Regions from separate parts of the Homo sapiens genome. Here region 2 is linked to region 1. Evidence: fine-mapped expression QTL. A gene starts in region 1. The other region holds a variant in brackets. All regions are shown on one strand. Distances are between the middles of the regions. Region 1 holds the start of SIAH2 (siah E3 ubiquitin protein ligase 2). Region 2 overlaps LOC101928105 (a long non-coding RNA gene).

What was found.
Region 2: its variant is fine-mapped to the expression of SIAH2 in whole blood (TOPMed, PIP above 0.99).

What each region holds. Positions count from the first base shown.
Region 1 is chr3:150,759,632-150,770,757 of GRCh38, reverse strand. SIAH2 (siah E3 ubiquitin protein ligase 2) reads left to right here and starts at 7,589. Exons shown (of 2, transcript NM_005067.7): 1 at 7,589-8,325. The coding sequence starts at 7,909. SIAH2-AS1 (SIAH2 and CLRN1 antisense RNA 1) reads right to left here and starts at 8,821. Exons shown (of 3, transcript NR_187306.1): 1 at 8,778-8,821; 2 at 8,351-8,419; 3 at 2,083-2,213. It overlaps LOC124909447 (a long non-coding RNA gene), which reads left to right and starts at 127. Exons shown (of 2, transcript XR_007096132.1): 1 at 127-194; 2 at 3,118-3,242. RefSeq lists enhancers at 6,594-6,653, 7,172-8,118, 9,935-10,034 and a silencer at 7,164-8,063.
Region 2 is chr3:150,724,052-150,735,177 of GRCh38, reverse strand. It overlaps LOC101928105 (a long non-coding RNA gene), which reads left to right. Exons shown (of 3, transcript NR_121657.1): 3 at 314-707. Among named protein-coding and RNA genes, the nearest start is that of ERICH6, 26 kb to the right of the region's middle. RefSeq lists cis regulatory regions at 1,181-1,872, 5,121-5,513 and enhancers at 7,279-7,778, 9,023-9,522, 9,523-10,024. The variant C/T (reference allele first, on the strand shown) is at 5,286.

The DNA.
Region 1 (11,126 bases):
AGAATAAGGAGATTATTCCGGACTCTCTCCCCTCTGCCTTTCTTCACTTCTCACTAAGGGATAGAGATCTAAGAACAAACAGTCCTAGGAGAAATGCTGTATATGCAACTCTGCCTCAACAGCGGGTTCAGAAAGGAGGCCAGCAGGGATCCAAGGATGGTTCCTAGAGGAGAGAGGACAGAAGACTCCCCAAGGTAGGAAAGTTTCAGGAGCTCTGTACCTTCGGGTATACGCTGCCCTCTCTCTGGACTGCAGTCTTTACCCTCTTCTTTGGTTGTCACATTCCTACTCTTGCTTTTTCTTGATGTCTTCCTCACACTTGCCCAGGAAGTGCTGAACTTCACCCTCCTCTCCTTTCCCATCTCCATAATACACGTATCACACTGTATTAGATTTTCCATATGATGTCTGGCAGGACAGCCAAATGGTTAAGAGCACAGTCACTGGAGTTAAAACAGCCTGGATCCAAATCATGTTTCTGTCACTTATCAGCATGTGACCTAGGACAAGGGATTAAACCTCCTCTTGGAGGTTTGTTCATCGCTTAAAGGGGATTAATAGACTACATGCCTTAGAGCGTTCTAATAAGGATTAAATGCCATGTGCTTAAAAGAGTGTCTGGGGGCCGGGCACAGTGGCTCACGCCTGTAATCCCAGCACTTTGGGAGGCCGAGGTGGGTGGATCACCTGATGTTAGGAGTTTGAGACCAGCCTGATCAACATGGAGAAACCCTGTCTCTACTAAAGATAAAAAATTAGCAGCGCATGGTGGCTCATGCCTGTAATCCCAGCTACTCAGGAGGCTGAGGCAGGAGAATCGCTTGAACTCGAGAGGTGGAGGTTGTGGTGAGCCTAGATCACACCATTGCACTCCAGCCTGGGCAACAAGAGTGAAACTCCATCTCAAAAAAAAAAAAAAAAAGAAAAGAAAAAAAAAAGAGTGTCTGATATCCAGTGAGCATTGTGTAAGGGTTTTATAATTAATGTTATTCCCCTACCAGGCTACTATCTCTCCAAAAATCAAGCCTGGGCTTGATATTATCCATGGCCTCCAAATATGACACTATTGACTGAATAAATCTTTGCACTTAGCCAGCTGACCAGTGGCCACAACCTGGCTCATAACCTTCATCTCTACTCGACCCAGGAAGCCCCTCTTGGAGCACTAGATCCTCCAACCTATTTCCTTCTTTCTGGGATCTCCAAGTTATACTCACATACTGCCTTTGGGTTACTCTTCTTAAATTTAATATTTAATATTAATTTAAATTTAATATTAATTTCAGCAAGTCACCTCTCAGACCCAAAGACCTGACTGAAGCTCCTAGTTCCTTTCTCAGCAGTATAATGCCCACCTTTTCTGGCTGGCTAGTCTTTATCACCCATTTTGGCACCAACCCTGCAGCTAAATAAATCCTTCACTAAAATAACCCCCAGAAAGGCAAGGACAACACACTTTTTAAAAAATAACACACGAAACACATGAATAAATTCTCATTGTACAAACAAAAAAGAACAAGAGAAGAAAAAAGAAATAAACTCCAGAAATATAGGAAGTATGTATGTTTTCCATACTGCATATCCATTCACATTCCCCCTCCCTGGAGGCAGCTGCTGCCGTCAGTTCACTGTCTTCTTCCAGACCTTTCTATGCCCTTGTAAACATATAGTCATTTTGCCTTGCACGGTATTTTCTACAGAAATGGAATCATTTTGGGTTTTTTGGCTTCAGTGTTTTTTGTTTGTTTGTTTGTTTTTTGAGACGGACTCTCGCTCTGTCGCCCAGGCTGGAGTGCTGTGGCACAATCTAGGCTCACTGCAACTTCTGCCTCCTGGCTTCAAGTGATTCTCCTTGCCTCAGCCTCCCAAGTAGCTGGGACTACAAGTGCCCACCACTAGGCCCAGCTGATTTTTGTAATTTTAGTAGAGACAGGGTTTCACCATGTTGGCCAGGTTGGTCTCAAACTCCTGACCTCAAGCGATCTGCCCGCTTCAGCCTCGCTAAGTGCTGGGATTTCAGGCGTGAGCCACTGTGCCCAGCCACAGTGTGCTTTTTTCATGTAACAAATTGTCTTGGAGAACTTTTCTAAATTGCAGAGGGTTTTATAGGATGGCTTTCCATAGTTCTTTTTCTTATTGATGGACACTGAGGTTGTTTCCAAACTAAATGATGATTTCATTTTCGCACATCTTCTATCACATCAAATTATCATCTGAAAAATATGGATTTACATAAAAATAAGAAATAAGAACATTAATTCTGGTTTTGTTGGTGTTCAATTTTTTTGTTTCTATAGCTGTAAATAACAAAAATAATATTCCTATATTTGTTTCCTTATATTTAAATAGCATTATAATAAAAAATCATTTTACATATAAGCCTTGTGACCTGGGACAGGTGTATTAGTTATATATTGCTGAGTAACAAATGATCCCAAAACTTCATGGCTTAAAACAACAAACACTGAAGCCAGGTGCAGTGGCACACACCTGTAGTCCCAGCAACTTGGGAGGCGGAGGCAGGAGGATTGCTTCAGCCTGGGAGTTCCAGGCTGTAATGCACTATGATTGTGTCTGAGAATGGCCACCGCACTCCAGCCTGGGCAACATAGTAAGACCCTATCTCTAAAAATAAAGATAAAAATAAAAACAGCACATATTCATTATCTCACAGTTTCTGTGTTCAACTCAGCTGAGTCCTCTAGTTCAAGGTGTCACAGGCACAATCACTTGTGAGCCAGGGTTGCAATCATCACAAGGCTCGGCTGAGAGAATCCACTTCCAAACTCACTCACTGTTGGCAAGCCCAGGGTTCTCACTAGCTGTTGGCCAGAGACATCAGTTCCTTGCCACGTGGACCGTTTAGCAGAGCTACTCCCAACATGGTAGCTGGCTTCATCCACAGAGAGGGCTCAGAGAGTGTTACAGACTGAATACTTGTGTCCCCTCAAAATTCACATATTGAAACTGTACTCCCTAATGTGATGATATTAGCAGGCAGGGTCTTTGGGAGGTAATCAGGATTACAGGAGGTGCTAAGGGTGTAGCCCTCATGGAGAGGGTTGGTATCCTTAGAAGAGTCCTGAGGGAGCTTCCTTCCTATCTCTGCTACGTAAGGACACAGTGAGAAGGCTGCCATCTACAAACCAGGAAGCAAGCCATCGCTAGACACCTGTGGCACCTTGACCTTGGTCTCCCCGTCCTCCACAACTGTGAGAAATAAATGTTTGTTATTTAAACCACCCAGTTTATGATATTTTATTATAGCAGCTCGAGCTAAGACAGCAAGCGAGAGGAACGGAGGGACAGTAAGACAGAATTCATAGTCTTTTTTAACCTAATCTCAGAAGTGACATTCTATCACTTTGACCATATTCTGTTCACTTAAAGCAGGATCAGCCCTCATTCACAGGAAAGGTGTTACATATTGGGCGACACCAGGAGGAGGGATCCCTGGGAGCCTTCTTAATGATGACTTCCTACAACTCTCTTGGCCTCTCTGTACCTGTTTTGTCATCTATAAAGATCTACCCTATAAAAGACATTGTGAGAATTAAGAGAATTAAAATATGTAAAGTACTTGGAACACTCCCTGGTACAGGGTGAGCACTAATTAGCTAAGTGTGGATACAAAAATAATGCAAATACATAGAACTGCTCTTAGTACACAGTGCTAAGTCCATGATGGTTGTTCAAAAAAATGCTTGAATTAGGAGTACTTGAGTATAGGAGTTTGAGGCCAGCCTCGGCAACACAGTGAGACCTCTTCTCTACAAAAACTAAAAAACTAGCAGGGCGTGATGGCACGTGCCTGTAGTCCCAGCTACTCAGGAGGATCCTTTGAGCCTGGGAGGTTGAGGCTGCAGTCAGCCATGATCCAGCCACTGCATTAAGCCTAGGTGACAGAGTGAGACCCTGTCTCAAAAAAAAAAAAAAAGATTTGAATTAAGAGACCTACAATTATTCAAAAGAAGTTTGAGCATTTGGAAATTACCCCAGAAACAGATGAAGTTAAAAGTTCCTACTATAATTACCAGGGGGCCTTACATCACCTCCAGATTTCCCACAAGCTTCCCCTGATGAGGAATTTCCATGCAGCAAGCTCCAATGCATACCTGAGTCATCTCTAAAAAGCCAACCACAATTTGCTCTGCAAATGCACATTTGCCTGATGGCAGAAGTTGCCTGATTTGCAAAACCACACAATTTGTAAGTTACAGAAAAAAGGGCAAGAGCTTGTCTGCCTAGCTGGAGCATTTCTCACTGTGCTCAGCAGTTTAGTGAAATTAGGAACTCACCTGTGAGGTGTTTTTTTTAAGACTCACCCTGCTATTTTAAGGAAAGAAAAGGCTACTCAGTACACCCCTAGTCTTTCAAGCTTAGCATAGAGCAGATGGGTTAAGGAGAGGTGTCCTGCTTGACATATGCAATCTGGGACTCAGTAGGTGGGCGAATGAGACCAACCTCTCATACAGTAGATGTGGTAAATGAGTCATGAATCAGGAGATAACAAAAGGCTGGACCCTGCTCCCCCAGACCACAAAGTCACTCACTAAACAGGCCAAGAAGCAGCAGCGACACTCCAAAGGGTAAATAAACCTCCCAACAACTCAACTCAGCACACATTTTGAGTACACGCTAAATTCGACCTCTGAGCGGACTGCCCGCTGGAAGAGGAGGCTCTAGCTCATAGTGCCCGGTATGCAAAGGTCACCTTTCTTTGTTTCAAAAGTCACCAAGGAAGGAGGAAGAAGAAAGGCGACTGGGAAGACCAGCCTGGTCATTGATGTGGCTCACATAGCAGACCTATCCACTCTCCCCCTGCCTACCTTCAGCAACTGCCCAGAGTTTTTTTGTTTTGCTTTTGTATTTTAATTACCCTGGTTGACTTAATCAGGTGTGCAATGATGTGAAGGAGGAAGAAAGAAGAAATTTCTCTATACCAGGGGAGGCATCTGCCAGGGTAAGAGTGGATGGGTTCGCTGTATTTTTAGAAAAATAAACCAAATTCTCTCTGCAGAGAATTGCTTTTCCTGTTATTTCTTTCAACACCTCCCAAACCAAATTGTTTTCTGAATGACCAGGGCCTATCTAGCTGGAACACTTAAAGCTCGTGTCAATGGGGCAAGGGTGAGGACTCCAGTCTCCTAATGAGAGCTAGTAAGAAGCCGTGGGGATGGAGGTCATCACACAGAGAGGCTAGAAGTGGAAGGAAAGAAAATGTGTTCCATTAATAAATTCCAAATGCTTTGATTTTAAATTAAGAATGAAAAATATTACATTTCCTCCAATAACAGTAAAACAGTAGGTGATTTTTGTGTTATCACTTATATTTTGTGTCATAAAAAGGTGAAAATGAAATAAATAGAACATGATTTAATTTTTCTCTCTAGACCAGCTAAGGAAAGAGTTTATGTAAAGTTTGCCCACAAAATTTAGTGCTTTATTATAGGCTGAACAACTGTTTTCTGACTCTGTTGAGTGTGCTAATCTTAACTGTTTAACAAGACTGTAAGTAGGAATCAGGCATAATTTAGAGGCATACAGACTAGTAGTTAAGAAGGGCTCCTAGCGTGTTCCCACATTCTCAGCTGTGTGATCTTGAGCAAAGTAACCTATGTCTCGGTTTCCTCAACTGTAAAATGGAGATAACAGTAGTATTCATCACAGAGAGTTATGATAAATACTTAAAACTATCCATGCCCAACATACAGTGGGCACTCAATTAACATTAGTTATTATTTTATGCTCCCTACCTATCCAAAAACTCAGGTTCAGCCATGTTACTAAAGAGCTTCCAAAAACCTACAAAACCTAGTGTTGTTGTGTGTTCTTAAAAAAACAAACAAAACCCTACAGTGGTTTACCCCTATCATTGAGGTAAATGTCTTATTAAGCCAGTTGAGGCTCCCCTTGTGCTAACGCCACACCCCTACACTCCCGTTATATCCCCTCCAAGTCCCAATGCAATCCCAGAATACATGCTTTCACTCTGTGCTTTTTAGCTCCTGCTATAATGCCTGCCCACCCCGTGGTATCTGAAATCCTTCTTCTCCCACGAGTGCTTGGTTATTGGGCCTTGCTCTCTTACTAGAATGTAAACTGCATGAGAACCATTCTCAGAGCTCCAACAGTAGCTGACACATGATAAATGCTCAGGAAACATTTACTGAACGATTGAATACACCTATTAAGTTTTTTCAAGATTTATACCAAATTCCATCAATTCCATGCATGTATTCTTTCTACAGAAGCCCTTTGTAAGATTAAACTTTATTTCTTCTGGGCTCTTACGCCATATTTCTTGGACAAATTGTATTCATTCATTTTAAACATCCACTAATATTTTTAAAAGATAAGAGCTAATGTTTAAACAGTGCTTATGATGGGCGAGGTTGTTTTAAAAGCTTGAAATATATTAAACTCATTTACTCCTCACTGCCCCACCTATAAGATAGGTATTTTTTTTTCCACTTTTACAGTTGGAGGGAACCATTTTTCACTCAGTCCTAACAGTTGGTCCTTACCTCTGTGTCTCCTATAAATTTCCGATTTCTACCTAAGGTAACCCTTTCCCCAATTCCGGAATCGTTGGCTCAAGCAAAGTCTGCAGAAAAACAATTTTAACTCGGAGCACACAGTTACATTTGGACATGCGGTTCACCCCGGGCAACCGTGCCCTCTAGCGCTTCTGCTGGGCGCGCAGGGTGGCCCTACGCCTCGCAACAAAGACTCGGACTTCGGCCGGCTCTCTACCAAGCGGACGCAGCGCCTTACACTGGAGTTTCACCCACTGTCTTCAGAGACCTCACGACCCAACCTACGTTTCTGACATTTCTAGATGATCTCGAACTCTTAGCCAACGCTGCCCATGAGCTCCCTCCTCGGCCTGCTATACGAGCCAGGGGCGCTCAATTCAACGAAGCTTCCTCCTGGTCCGCTGGGAAAGGAATAAAGGGAGCTTACATCCTCCCCACCGCCCCCCTCTTTACTCAACCCCACCGTTAACTGTACAAAACTAGGTCCTGTGCCCGCTGCAGACCCAACTCGAGCCCCTCGCCCTGCTCCCACCCAATGCTTCTCGTCCTGACTCCGAACACAGAACGCGGGTGGCCGCTTCGCCCTCTTCTCCTGCGTGCTGGTGACTCAGCCCTGAGAAGAGAAACCTCTCGGTTTTTTCCGACTAGTGCAGGGGCGCCCGCGCCCCGCCCCTGCCCGCCCGCGTCCGGTCCCACCCACCGTCCACGCTCCCGCCCCGCCTGAAGTTGCCTTTCTCGTTTGAGCTGAGGGACGCGTCAGCCAGGCACCCCGGGGTGTGGCCAGAGGACTTCGGCGACGCTTCCCCGAGAGTAGCCCCCCTCCTCAACCCAGAAAAGACAACCCCGCGGGGCTGCAGCGAGCCAGGCATGCTCACTGGCGCAGGCCCGGCCCGCAGCCCGAGCAGGAAGCGCCGGCGCTAGGCGGCCCCCTGCGCTGCCAGCTGGAGCCGGGCGGAGCCAGCGCCCCGGCGCAGGGTGGCTCTGCCAGTCCCCGCGCGCCTGGGCGGCCGCACACGTGTCCAGGCGTCACGTCCGCGCGCGCCCCCGGGGCTTGCGTCAGCGGCTGTTCCAGAAGCGGGTGGGCCAGGGCTCTGCGCACCGCTGGGGTTCGGGGCCCGGGACGCCGCCGGGAGGAGGGCACCGCGCGGGGTCCGACGCGGAGGCGTGCTCGGAACGCCGGGGGCTGCGGAGTGCATCAGCGCGGTCCAGCCCTCCGCCTGCCGGGCGCCGAGCGTCTCCGCCGCCCGGACCTGGGCTGGGCGCCGTGGCGTTGCCTCGGAGCTCGCTGCCCGCGGGGCGCGCACCGCCTTGACCCGGGCGGCCCCGCGGCAGGCAGGCGCCCGCAGTTCCATGGTTGGTTCGGAGCGCGATGAGCCGCCCGTCCTCCACCGGCCCCAGCGCTAATAAACCCTGCAGCAAGCAGCCGCCGCCGCAGCCCCAGCACACTCCGTCCCCGGCTGCGCCCCCGGCCGCCGCCACCATCTCGGCTGCGGGCCCCGGCTCGTCCGCGGTGCCCGCCGCGGCGGCGGTGATCTCGGGCCCCGGCGGCGGCGGCGGGGCCGGCCCGGTGTCCCCGCAGCACCACGAGCTGACCTCGCTCTTCGAGTGTCCGGTCTGCTTTGACTATGTCCTGCCTCCTATTCTGCAGTGCCAGGCCGGGCACCTGGTGTGTAACCAATGCCGCCAGAAGTTGAGCTGCTGCCCGACGTGCAGGGGCGCCCTGACGCCCAGCATCAGGAACCTGGCTATGGAGAAGGTGGCCTCGGCAGTCCTGTTTCCCTGTAAGGTAAGCCCAGGGACAGCCCACGTACCTCCGCCGGTGACCTCAGGGACTCCGGTATCCGCCAGCCCACTCGCAGGCCCGGAGAGGCGGGCGGCATCTCTCATTTAAAAAAAAAAAAGAAAAAATGTTTACACTTCGTCCACCCTCCCTCAAGCCCACTTTGGGTGTAGGTCTGGGTTGACATTTACCGAGTAATAATTGTTAATAGACAATTAACAGATTAATTGGCATTTGCTGATCGTTAGAACATCGTAGCTCACCCGGCCCAATGCCCGCGTCCTCTGCAGACGTGTATTCGGGTACTCTCGGTAGGGCTGGGCCGCACCAGTAAAACTTGGACCGAGAAACTGACTGTGTGGGGATTGAGGAGGGAGGAAACGGGCGAGCTAAACGCCCCCTTTACCAGCGCTGGGCTCGGCTGAATTGATAATTGGAGTCCTGCACCCCGCGCCTACCGTCTGCGCACCCCTGACACGTGGGAGCTCTCGGGATTGTAGCTAAAAAAAGGGCGCCTACAGCCTGTTTTCCTCTAGCTAGAAGAAAACCCTGCAAGCCACGCCTTTTTCTCTCCTAGCCTTCCAAAGACTGGGAAGGACTGAGGAGTTGTGGCTGCGTTGTTGTACTAAGTGGGGTGAAAACAGTCAATCAAGAAATTAACAAGGGCACTCAAGAGCTGTTGTTACAGTTGTTTAAAGCTCATCACTTCATTTTTTATTTAATGTAAAAAGTTTTCAATGCCCTTGCGAAAAATGCAAGCCACCAAGACAAGAAGTAAAATGAAAGACCAAGATCTCTCCCCTCCTTTCCCACCATTGTTAGGTTTAGTGTGTATCTTTTTAAACTATATATACATACACCCTCGCAGCTAAATATAGAATCATAGATGTCAGTGTATGTCAGGGAGGTTTTTTAATACCCACACATAGATGTAAGTTTTTCTCCAAAAATGGCATCTGCAACTTGCTGTTCTTAAATTCATATTATCACACATATTTCTCTATGCCTGAAACCTAGTCGACTTCATTGTATTTTAAATGGCTGCATAGTATTGCATTGTGTGGTCATATTATAACATTTGTTTACCTGCAGCTATTACGTGGAAACCTTCAGGAGCAGTTTCACAGACATACTTGTCTACGTTATAACCTAGAAGTATACTGTAAAGTCATTTTCTGAAATTAGAAGTGGAGATAATGTCACTAATACTTTCCAGTTTTTTTGTAAAAGTAACTTGCGCTGCCTCTTGGGCCATTTAAGCTGTCTTGCATTTCTCCTTGGTGCTGCTTATTTTATAGGACAAGAGCTCATTTTTAAATTAAAAATAATCCACCAGAGAATTCAGGCTTGGGACTCAGGTCAGTAAAATGAGTGCTTTAATTTGGTCTGCTGCCCTGCTGCAAATCAGGTTTAAAATAGCATATTTAAATAAGAGTTTGAATCGGTGTTTGGACTAGGGTGTTTCAGGCAACCTTAATAAATTGCTGTTAACCCCTCCTCATATAGTGCTTACTAATTCACTCAGCCCAGTTTCTCAAAATTTAGATAAAGTATTTGCATAGTTGTCTTAGGGTTGTGAAAAAGGTGACAACCTAGTGGTTGGAAAAGGTTTGGTGGTAGTTAACATAGAGTGGCTATTTGATGCTTGAGATATATTGCAGGGGTGGGGGATGCCCCATAGGATTTCTGGGGAGCCATTTTCTCACCCCTTTACTTTCCCTTAAACGCGCAGCGGCTAACAAAAGAAATGGCTTTTAGGTGAGTTTTAGTTCACAAATGAGCATTTGATATTAGTCAGTAATCCATAATTTGTTTTTAAAATGTAACCATAATAGAATTGTGTTGTTCCCAAGAGAAAGGGAAGGAAACAGTTATGCTATATGGAGCATGAAGTTTCACTTTCAGGATCTAGAACTCTGGTTCCTATGAAAGCATACGTTCTTTCCTAACGTGAAACAGGCTACTGAAATCAACCTTGAAGAGTAGTTCTGGGAATCAGGGGTTCTCAGCCTTTCTGTACATGTCAGTGGTTTTCTGAGTCTCTATTCTATAAGAATGCAGTGGGGTAAAGCTATTACTTTGCAAGCTGAAATTTAAAAGGGCCAATTATTCCCCTGCAGACCAAGAACCAAGCTTAGGATGTGATCTTGGGGATGCTTTTGTGTGTGCATGTGTGTGAGTTGTATAAAGCTGGGGTGTGTGTCCCTCACCTTTGGTTGATCAATAATCCAAACTATTGGCAGGGCAGCTCAGCCAGTTAGTCTGGATAAACCAAACTTGAATGTATACATAGGCCCAGCGACCAACCAAGATGTGTTAGTTGTAGAGGATGAGAAACAACAGAGAGCCGTAAGGCCTGTATCAAACTTAAAACAAGGCAGATCTGTTTACCTAGCCCTTTGGCCTACAGTTTGAGGCTCCTAGAAATTATGGGACTGCCTTTTTACTGTCCCCACCTGCTCTCAGAATCTCTCATGGGCTGGCTCATGTGAAAAAAACCAACGTTGAATAAAGTACCAGAGCCCACATCTCAAGAGCTGCCACTGTTTGCCTGAAAGACCACCTCCCAGGGCCTTGATTTCCTCATCTATACAAATGAGAGATGAATCTGCTTGACTTCTAAGGACCTGTAGCTTCTAGCATTCTATGAAAAGAAGGGAGGCTATCTGGAATGTTATTGGATGCCCTCTATCTGCCAGTTACTTTGCAGGGGTCAGCTTTTACTAGTTTGCCTTTTTTTTTTTTCAGATGAGGAAACTCATGCCTACAGAGTGGTTAAATGTGAAGTGACTTGTCAAATCACACAG
Region 2 (11,126 bases), 36 kb after region 1:
AGCGAAATGGATGATGTGGAGAAGGAGGCAATCACAGCGGGGGCAAAGTAATCAGAAAGACAAGTTTCCAGGGCAGATTACTTACTTATGCAGTAGAGATGGTCAGGAAGCAGCCATTATTGAAATAGAGAGAGGTGGGAAAAAAATTGTGCCAACAAGCAAGGGTTGAAGCAAATTATGTTTAGAAGGCCCTGGTGAGGGCGTCTGTGCATATCCAGCCCTGAACAGGAGAAAGGCACTGGCTGCAGCTCAGTCTAGAACATCCCAGGCATCTGAGAGGTTTACACCTTAGCAAGCTGTGGTGTTTTTCTAGGTTCCATGAAAACCTGGAAGAAATATTCCTGAGGACCATCCAACACCATTTCCCTGAGAGACAAGCTGTAAGTGCTGTTCTAGTTACAGATCCGAGTCCCTGGTACATTGATATCAAGTAAGGGTGCATGCAGCTCAGAAGGCAGTTTCCATTACACTGGACAAGAGTGTGGCTGCCTGAGTCCTAGAACTGCAGTGGCTTCTGCTGACAATGTGAGGAGTAGCTGCCCTGTCCAGAGTGTGGCCCCGCACGCTGCCCCCTCCCCTGGAGGGACTGAAGAGAACAGCTTGGAGCATGCCCTTCCCTTTCCCTTATCTCGCCCACTATGCTAATGCTGCTCATCCCTCAAGATCCGAGTTATTCCTCCTCAATTCAATACACACCAATCAACTGCCCTGTGCTTGGTCCTGTACTTTATATCCTTGATATGGTTTAATTTTCAAAACAAAACACCTTGAGGTGGGTATTATCACTCCCATTAACAAACAAGAAGGTGGGGGCTCAGAGAGGCTAAGTAACTTGCCCAAAGTCACACAGCTTGTAAGCAGTGAAAATGGGATTTACACTCAGGAATGTAGCCCTTCCAACAGCCCTGCTGCCTGCAAAAGTGACTCAGATATGGACTTTACAGTCTAGCAGAAGTCTGAAAGCATCAAACAAAGAGGCAACTTACAGTAGCATGAAATATGCAACCACAACTACATCAACTATGTTTGCAAAGCAAGTTAAGACAAGGACGTACAAATTGCTATGGAGTTCAAAAGAGGATTGGAAAAGGCTTCCGGGAGAAAGCAGCGCGTGCATTGGGCCTTGGGTGTTGGGTAGGTTTTTGCAAGGCTGAGGTAGTTAGGAGGATGTGCCAAGAGATCAGCCTCTCCTGGATCAAGACCAAACCACTCAATGCCTAAGTCCAGCCTTGTCCACCTCCCATCCACTTCTCAGGGCTATTCTTCTCTCACACTTCCTTTGTTCCCGCGTTCCTGACACCCACACAAGGTCAGACACGTAGAACGTGCCGAGTGAATATCAAAGTTCAGCAGTGTCTTGTCTGGTCCCTAATTCTAATCTATCCTTTAACCCATCCTCATACTAGCTAAATTTCAGGACGAACCCTGTCCACAATAAAAACTACTTCTTCTAGAGAATTTGCCCTGCCCATAGTTCCTGGAACACCCCATGCAAACCCCCCACTAATTCACACACCCACAAACTTGTAATGCAGGCCACAGCTGATAAGACCTTACCCAGGCCAGCGGTTCATTGGCTGAGCAGCCACCAGTCAGATTCTCTTGAGAGAGTCAAAGACAGTCAGTGGTGTGCACCAGAGTCACACAGCCCTGGAAAGTCAGCACACTAGCAAAGGAAAAGCCTTGATAGCAAGAGGCCCCTAGGGGTGGAGGGAGCAGCCACTGCCGCCCACCCTGCCAGGTCCTAATCCCTCCCCAGGGAGCCCAGAAACACTCCATTTCCTGCTTTGAGGCATCTTGGAGACAGCCTGCTGTGCCTTCACAATTAATTCTTCTTATCACTTTTTTTTTCAATTTTAGACCATATTTATTCACTCCCACCACCAAAATTGAAGAAAGTAACACACAAAGTTTCTCCCTCCTTCTAATTTTGCTTAATTTTATGATTATTGCTGTCAAGATGTATAACTTTTTTTTTTTTTTTGAGATGGAGTCTCTCTCTGTTGCCCAGGCTGGGGTGCAGTGGTGCCATCTTAGCTCACTGCAACCTCCGCCTCCCGGGTTCAAGCGATTCTCCTGCCTCAGCCTCCGAGTAGCTGGAATTACAGGCACCTGCCACCATGCCCGGCTAATTTTTGTATTTTTAGTAAATACAGGGTTTCACCATGTTGGCCAGGGTGATCTTGAACTCCTGACCTCAAGCAATCCACCCGCCTCAGCCTCCCAAACTGCTGAGATTACAGGCGTGAACCACTGCACCCAGCCAAGATGTATAACTTTTAAAAAAACATTTTATTAGTAAATTTTCAAAAGGAAGGAGAATAATATAACGAATTCGATGTGTTATCACCAACTTCAACCATTATCAACTCTTGGCCAGCTGTCCTGCATCTATACCCTCACCTACATCCACGTGTGGATTTCTTTGAATCAAATCCCAGGCATCATATCATTTCATCTGTATATGTTTCAGTATAGAATATCTAAAGATTAGGACTTTGAAACATACTCACAATACTGTTTTTATATCTATAAAAATTATAAATTTTAATATAATCAAATATCCAGTCAGAGGTCACATTTCTCTGGTTGATATACAGTCTGTTTGAACTGGGATACATATATAAGATCCTTACATTGCTACTGATAAAATGCTTATGTCTTTTTTAATCTACAGATTCTCCCTCCATCTCTTCTCCTTTCTTGAAGTTATTTATTGAAAAACCCAGGGTTCCTATAGCAGAGTTTCCTATAGTCTCATTGCAACCCCAGAATATCATTTTATCAGATTCAGATTTGATTTTTCTTTTTATAAGACTGCTTCAAACCAACCAGGGAACTGTTGGGGAGGAAAAAAAAGAAGACTGCTTCATAGGTGATGGTAGTGATGTGTATGTCTATAACACAAAGGACAATGGCTGTTGCTCTCTTCCTCTAACTCTGTCTGTCTCTTTTAGTGATATTATCGGCCATTGATGGCTCATATTCACTTGTGAGGCATTACAGAATGATCTTTCAAATCATTCCTTTTTTATGAACTGGAAAACTTCTATAGTGACAAACTTCCTCTTTTCAACTATTGGTTTACCGTAAGGTACATTTTACAAGGGAAAGATAACATAAATGCCTGATTATTTTCCTTTATCAGTTTTCAAAACAATGAGGTAGTTTTCTAGCATCCTCCAAAAATAAAACCAATGAAGTAACATTTTAAAAATATATCAGGCAGGCCAGGCATGGTGGCTCATGCCTGTAATCCCAGCACTTTGGGAGGCCAAGGCAGGCAGATCATCTGAGGTCAGGAGTTCGAGACCAGCCTGGCCAAAATGGTGAAACCTCGTCTCCACTAAAAATACAAAAGTTAGCCAGGTGTGGTGGTGCATGCCTGTAGTCCCAGCTACTTGGGAGGCTGAGGCAGGAGAATCATTTGAACCTGGGAGACAGAGGTTGCAGTGAGCCGAGATCACACCACTGCACTCCAGCCTGGATGACAGAGCAAGACCCTGTCTCAAAAACTAAAAATCATTATGTCTCTTAAAAAAAAGAATATCATTATGAATTCATGGATTTTAACTTTTTTATGTATTTCAATTCATTGCCATTATTATCCTTGTTGATACTCATATCATTCCATCTTGGCCTGACAAATGCATATTCAGCTTGGTTCCTGAGTGCTTTTGACATGATCACAAATAGCCTCTGATGTTCCAGGCTCATCTTGTTCTTTTCCTGCACTCAACATGTAATCAACGATGTCTTCAAGGAACCTTGATTTCTTTAGTGTGAAACAATGATTCAAGACCACAGTCTAGGCAGTAGGAGCCCCCGTTATTCAAACTTGAGCCAGTTTGAATGGATTTTCTACCCTGGAGCTGAATAGATGTTGACTAGAATTCTCAATGTTTCCACCAAAATAAGTTATGAAAGAAGCAAATCTGGTCACACAAATCTAATTTAAAATCTTCCCTTTTTTAGACAAGAGTGTCAAGATAATTCAATGGAGAAAGAATAATTGTTTCAACAAATGGGACAACTGGATATTCACATGCAAAAGAATGAAGTTGGATCCCTGCCTCATGCATGTGTGTGTGTGTGTATATATATATAAAAATTTACATGACAGACAGACACTGTCCTTTGTGTTATAGATGTACCCATCACCACCATCAACTATGAAGCCATCAGGGTTTTTTCCCCAATAGTTCCCTGGTTGGTTTGAAGCAGTCTTGTAAAAAGGAAAATCAAATCTGAATCTGAGCAGATTATATTCTTGGGCTGCAATGAGACTATAGGAAACTCTGCTATGGGGAACCTGGGTTCTTCAATAAATAATTTCAAGAAAGCAAAAGAGATAGAAGGAGAATCTATAGATTAAAAGAGACATAAGCATTTCATCAGAGGCAATGTAAGAATGTTTCTATTATATATTACATATTATATATTCATTCATTTATCCAACACACATATATACATACTGCTTCCCTACACTATGCCAGGTACTGTTCCATACACAAAGGATCCAGCAAAATGTACAAAAACTCTAGCCCTTGGCTGGGCATGGTGGCTCATACCTGTAATCACAGCATTCTGGCAGGCCAAGGCTGGCAGGTCACTTGAAGCCAGGAGTTTGAGACCAGACTGGCCAACATGGTGAAACCCAGTCTCAACTAAAACTACAAAAAAAAATTAGCCAAGCGTGGTGGTACAAGCCTGTAGTCCCAGCTACTCAGGAGGCTGAGGCACAAGAATTGCTTGAACCCAGGAGGTGGAGGTTGCAATGAGCTGAGATTTCACCACTGCAACTCCAGCCTGGGTGACAGAGTGAGACCCTGTCTTCAAAACAAAATAAAACAAACAAGCAAAAAACCTCTAGCCTTTGTGTTGCTTACATTGTCATGGAGAGAAGAAGGCAATAAACAAAATATATGCAAAGATTTTATACAGTATAATACATTGAAGATAGTCAATGCTATGGAGAAAAATAAAGCAGGTAGAAGGGATGGTCAGTAGGGGAGTAGGGGAGAGGAGGGATCGCAGTTATAAACAGAGTGATATTTGAGCAAATGCTTGACGGAGGTGAGGGAATGAAACATGCAGCTAATTGGAGGAAAAACATTCTAGGCAGGGGAAATAACAAGTCCAAAGGCCCTGAGGTGTGCATGTCTCGTGTGTTCAAGGAATATCCAGGGAGCGGAGTCCGGGGAAGGAAAGTAGGAGCTGAGGTGAGAAAGTGCGAGGAGAGAAAAACTTTGCTATTTTATTGGAGCAGAGCACAGCGGCGTGTT[C/T]ATGTCTAAAAAGAGTAGAAATTATTCTGGATGGTGACTCCACAAGGGGAACATATGCAGCTTGCCTGGTTTCAAGATAAGGGCCATAATCAGTGGCACACAGGAGCCGGCACATACCAACTTGCAACAGTCAAATGTTTAGGAATCTTGAGAGCCAGTTGATAAACACAGCTATTATTAAAAATTAAATTCTAGATTTATAATTAAATAAGTTATATTTAACAGTATTATATTTAACAGTATATATTTAACAGTAGCAGTATTTAGTACTTAGAAAGTGGCAAAAGCAACAAATTGGGGCTTGATTTATTAGTTGTTGTCTAGACTTAAGAAAATGATGACGAAAATGTTAATAATAGAGCTTTAACTTAGAATTATGTCATACTTGGAACCATTACATTGCAAATAGAAAAAAAAGTTGAAGAAATATTTTTCTAGCAGTCAAAAACTACTGCCCAAATCAATAAAGAAGTCACTCACATCATTGATGACACTGATGAACCAGTGAAATTTTGACAAACATCTGAAAGTTAAGGCTTCTTCATTTTAATCTTACTGGTACCAACCAGCATTTATGTCATAATTGCTTGTTTGTCAATATCAACCACAGGTTGGCATACAATATATGCCAAGGGTTCAGCAAAATACAAGGTTCAGATACAACGGTTCAGCAAAAAGCAATGAAAACATTCTGAGGGAATCAATAAGCTATATGGAATTTACAGTTTAGAATACTGTATAATTTCTTATTATTTGTACATTGGGTGCTACAATTCCTTTATATCAGTAAGATTTATCTGACACTTGCATGTGTTAAAAAAAAATTTAATTTCTGGAGCACCAGTTGTTAAACATTTACCAGCACACCTCTGGCTACAATCTGATCAAATCCAATTTTACACATCTTAGAGCCCAGACAGATAGAGGAGAGAGAGGCCTCTCAAGGCAACGAAGCAATTAAAAGGAATGGAGTTACTTCAAAATCATTCTGCTCTAGAATTTGGAGTTGGCCACGCTGGAGACCAAGAATTCCTTTGTGTTTATATTTATGATACCTTCTATTTACAGTAGGTGATTCTAGCTCTCCATTTATGGTAGTGATACAGTTTCCTTTTCAAGTAAACTTGTTTAAAGTACCAAAAAAGACAATTTCGAGAAAAATGTTAAGTAAATGATAAACAGGAAATACACAGAAGTGACAAAAATTCAAATGATGACCTGCAGTATCTCCACTGGGAAACACTAGCTCAATGATTAAGAACTCAGGCTGGCTAGGCACGGTGGCTCACGCCTGTAATCCCAACACTTTGGGAGGCAGAGGTGGGCAGATCACTTGAGGTCAGGAGTTTGAGACCAGCCTGACCAACATGGCAAAACCCCATCTCTACTAAAAATACAAAAATTAGCTGGGCGTGGTGGCAGGCACCTGTAATCCCAGCTACCCAGGACGCTGAGGCAGGAGAATTGCTTGAACCCAGGAGGCGGAGGTTGCAGTGAGCCGAGAACATGCCACTGTACTCCAGCCTGGGCGACAGAGCAAGACTTCCCCTCAAAAAATAAAAGAACTCAGGCTTTCAAGCCATATCTGGGCTCAAATTCAGACACTTCTAATTACCGCTACCTTTGTGAATTCATTGGCCTCAGCGTCCTTGTCCATAAAACAGGCACGCTGCCAACTCCACAGGGTTGCAATGAGTTGTGAGATCCAGGGAAGCCCAGGGCCTGGCACAAATGGGAGCTGACAAAAGAGGGGCTCCAGGGAGAAGCCTCATCTGGGGCCTGGCCTCCTCAGCCCAAAACAGGCAATGCCTTCAACTTTCTCTCTGACGTGTATAAAATGTGAATGTTCACAAGCACACACACGCAACAGCAGCACACACTGTTCCCTGACTCAGCGTTCTCCCCTAAGGCCCTAAGTGCTTCCCTCTCCTATCTGCTGGAGCAGCAGGTTCTTAGGGGTTCCTTAAACCTCAACAGAGCCCTCAGTGACAAGTCCCTGGTTCTGCTGGACACTCTGGTTATAAAGAGGAAAAGACTTCTGCCCTGCCCCAGAGAGCTTTTCCCAGCTAGTGCGGGAGACTGGTAAACAGAGTAGAGCTGGTAAACAGAGTACCTGATGATGACCACGGGAATGGCGTGGTCCCCTAGGTCTCCCTGCAGAGCTCCCGTTGCTCTTCTCTGTTAGTCTTTTTTTTTTCGGGGCGGGGGGGTGATGAAGCCTTGCTCTTGTCGCCCACGCTGGAGTGCAGTGGCATTAGCTCACTGCAACCTCCGCCTCCTGGGTTCAAGTGATTCTCCTGCCTCAGCTTCCCTAGTAGCTGGGATTACAGGTGCCTGCGACAACGCCTGGCTAATTTTTGTATTTTTAGTACAGACGAGGTCTCACCATGTTGGCCAGGCTGGTCTCGAACTCCTGACCTCATGTGATCCACCCACCTCGGCCTCCAAAAGAGCTGGGATTTCGGGCATGAGCCACCGTGCCCGGCCTCTGTAAGGCTCTTTTGTTTGCAAGGAATGGCAACTCGGTCAAGGCCTCAAGTGAAAGGCCTCTATTGTAATAACAATACTGCAGCCAACACTGGCGACATTTGTGCTAGAGAGGCTGCAGTGGCTCCTAGATCCCTGCTCCATGCCTCACCAACTGCTCTGGGCCTGGCAGGCTGACCACTGCGTTTTGTAACCACCTAACAGCCTCATCCTTTGGCCTCCAATCAGATTGGCCTTTGGGTATCATGGGCAGGAGATCAGAGTTAGGGAGAAGTCTTAAGAGTATGCATGCTTTCCACTCCTGCCCTGTAGGGCCAGGTTGGCCCAGCTGCACTCTTGTCCAGACCCCCACAGTTCCTGCCCTGTCACCCTGTTTTGAGGCTGCTGGGTGTCTGATAACTACTTCCTCCCTTCGCCTCATCAGGCCTAGGAGTACTAAAGACTTCTCAGCCAGTTATAGCCCATGGTGTTCCACCATCCTTTGTCCCTTCATCTGACCTATACTTTTGTAAATAGTCTCTCAGCCTCTCCTCAGTTACCCAATTTGGGTGTCCTGCCCAGACCCAGACCGCTACCTGCTTACTGAGTACTTCATATGCACCAGCAGGCCCTTCTCCACATCTTATGCCCATTAACTCATTCAAGCATCAAAACAACCCTATGAAGCAGACACCAGTAACAGCCCAGTTTACAAGTGAGGAACCTGAGAAAGAGTGCTCAGTTACTTACTCAAGTTTACATGGTGGGAAGTAGCATGGCCAGGCAGTGTCTCTGCTGACGCTACTCCGTGTTAGGATATGTACAGGAATAGGAAAGTGCGTGTCTATTTTCACTTCCTGGAGCACAGGACCAGCCACACCAGCAGGTTTCTGGCACTCTGGAGTGTAGTTCAGAAATGGAAATCTCACCAGGCCCCACTGGGGTCTGAAGCCTCACTATCTCCTAGCCGCTGGTGTTGGCACATCGGTGTTACTCAGCCACATTCAGTCTGCTTCTCCTGCTGCCAGCACCCTGCTTCTCTCTGCTCTCCTCCAATCCTCACTACTTCTGCCTAGCATCTTCTCTGTGTATCCTTTGATTTCTACTCCTTACCAACTACTGCCAAAGAGGGGACCACTTGATTCGGACAGCCACTAGTCGACTTTAAAAGTCACTGGTCTCAGCAGGGTGCAGTGGCTCCCACCTGTCATCCCAACATTTTGGGAGGCTGAGGCAGGGATCACTTGAGGCCAGGAGTTCAAGACCAGCCTGGGCAATATAGCGAGACCCTGTCTCTACAAAACAAAAGTAACTGGGCATAGTGGTGTGTGCCTATAGTCCCAGCTACTCAGGAGGTGGAAGGATCACTGTGTCCAGGAGTCCAAGGCTGCGGTGAGCTATGATCATGCCACTGAACTTCCAGCCTGGGTGACAGAGCAAGAACCTGTCTCTAAAAAAAAAAAAAAATTAATTAATTAATTAATAAATATTTAAAAAGTCACTGTCTTTTCCCTGAGTCAGGAGATGCATGGTTACCCGACGAGATATAGGGGTCAATGGGAGGGAAGACACCAGCAGACCCACACAGGATTGTTTCATGGCAAAGTAAACAGAGACACACACGAGCAGGAGATTGCACAGCCTGCTCCCAGGCAAAGGTAGACACATTCTTCTAGTGGGTGGGGAAGTGGATACACCCTCCCAGCCCCTTCCGGCTGTGCTGGAAGCTCTGGCTGCTTGCTGGCTCGCCCCAGTGGCAAGAAGCTGATGCAAAACAACCCTTGCACATTACCATGAGACTAGGCGAGGCGAGACTCAGTTTCCCAGGAGCACCCCAGCAGACTGGGGCCTCAGGCCTACCCCAAGTCCATTCCTGCAGGTGTCCACTGGCCAGCAGTCATGGCGACAATGAGAGGGCCACCTAGTGCAGAAATACAGACCAGGCCATCAACGCAAAAGAAGCCAGTGAGGGCCCGTTCGCTGACCTCTCGGAGTGTAGCAGGCACCCAGGTCTTGACAGACTCCTCTATAGCACATTCCTAAGGCACCCTCCGCTCCAGTCTCCCTGAACTTCCCACAGTTCACAAACATACCGAGTTCTTTCACGACTCTGTGTCTCTGCCCAGACTAGTCTCTCAGCCCAGAAGGTCTTTTCCCACCTTGTTCCTGTAAACTACTTCCTGTTCATCCTTTAAAAGACGCTCCTGAGAAAACCTCCTCAGATACCCCAAGCCAGATCAGCTGTCCTGTCTCCTGTGTTCTTCCTTCCTGGTTCTCTGGAACAGCATTCACCTTGTGATACACTGACTTTTTTTTTTTTTAAGCTGTCTGTTCTCTCTCTCTCTTAAACCAAGAACTCCTCAAGAGCAAGGCCTGTGACTGATTCCGTTTTATATTTTAGGGCCCTTTCCCAGACCAGGAGCACACTAGATGTTCCCCAGGCAAGTATTAAAGAACTGAATAGATGAAGAGCAAGGAACATCATCAAAAAACAGCAAATAGGGTGGTGACTGTTGTTTCCCCAAAGCAAGCAGAGCCTGAGACAAAGCTTATATGAAGTTTATTTAGGAAATGCTGGGCATGGTGGCTCTCACCTGTAATCCCAGCACTTTCAGAGGCCAAGGTGGGCAGATCACCTGAGGTCAGGAGCTCGAGACCAGCCTGGCAAAGTTATACACATTCTTATGGTGTATACTACATGGTGAAACCCCCATCTCTACTAAAAATACAAAAATTAGCCAGGCGAGGTGACATGTGCCTGTAATCCCAGCTACTCAGGAGGCTGAGGCAGGAGAATCGCTTGAACCCAGGAGGCAGAGGTTGCAGGGAGCCGAGATCACACCACTGCACTCCAGCCTGGGCAACAGAGCGAGGCTCCCTCTAAAAAAAAAAAAAAAAAAAAAAAAAAAAGACATTTATTTAGGAAAGTGATTCCAGGCAACAGACTGAAGGACTGAAGAGGGGAGTAGGGGAGGAAAGAAAGCCAGCACAGGTGCATTATCCGCCGGTCACTGCCTTAGGTAACTGAGGCTCAATCCCGCTAGGGGCTTCTGAGGCACTGTGTAGAAGGACCTCAGAATTGTCCACTGAGAGAGAGAAGAGGGAGGTCTTCACCCTCCAGTTCCCATCCCCAGCTCATCAAAGGGTACCCCCTATCACGGTAAGTACCCTGCAAGTCCAGAAGGCAACCAGGAGGCAAATGTGTCCTGTGCCACGCTGCAGGATCCAGGAAACGTCAGGCAGCCAAAGCCAGAGCCATCAGCCACACCTGCACAAAACTGGTTGCTACAGCAGTGGCTGAAGTTGCAGCTGGGCCAACAGGATGTGCAGCATCCATTCAGGTCTGTGTAAGAGTAGGCGAAGTTAAAGCTAGAA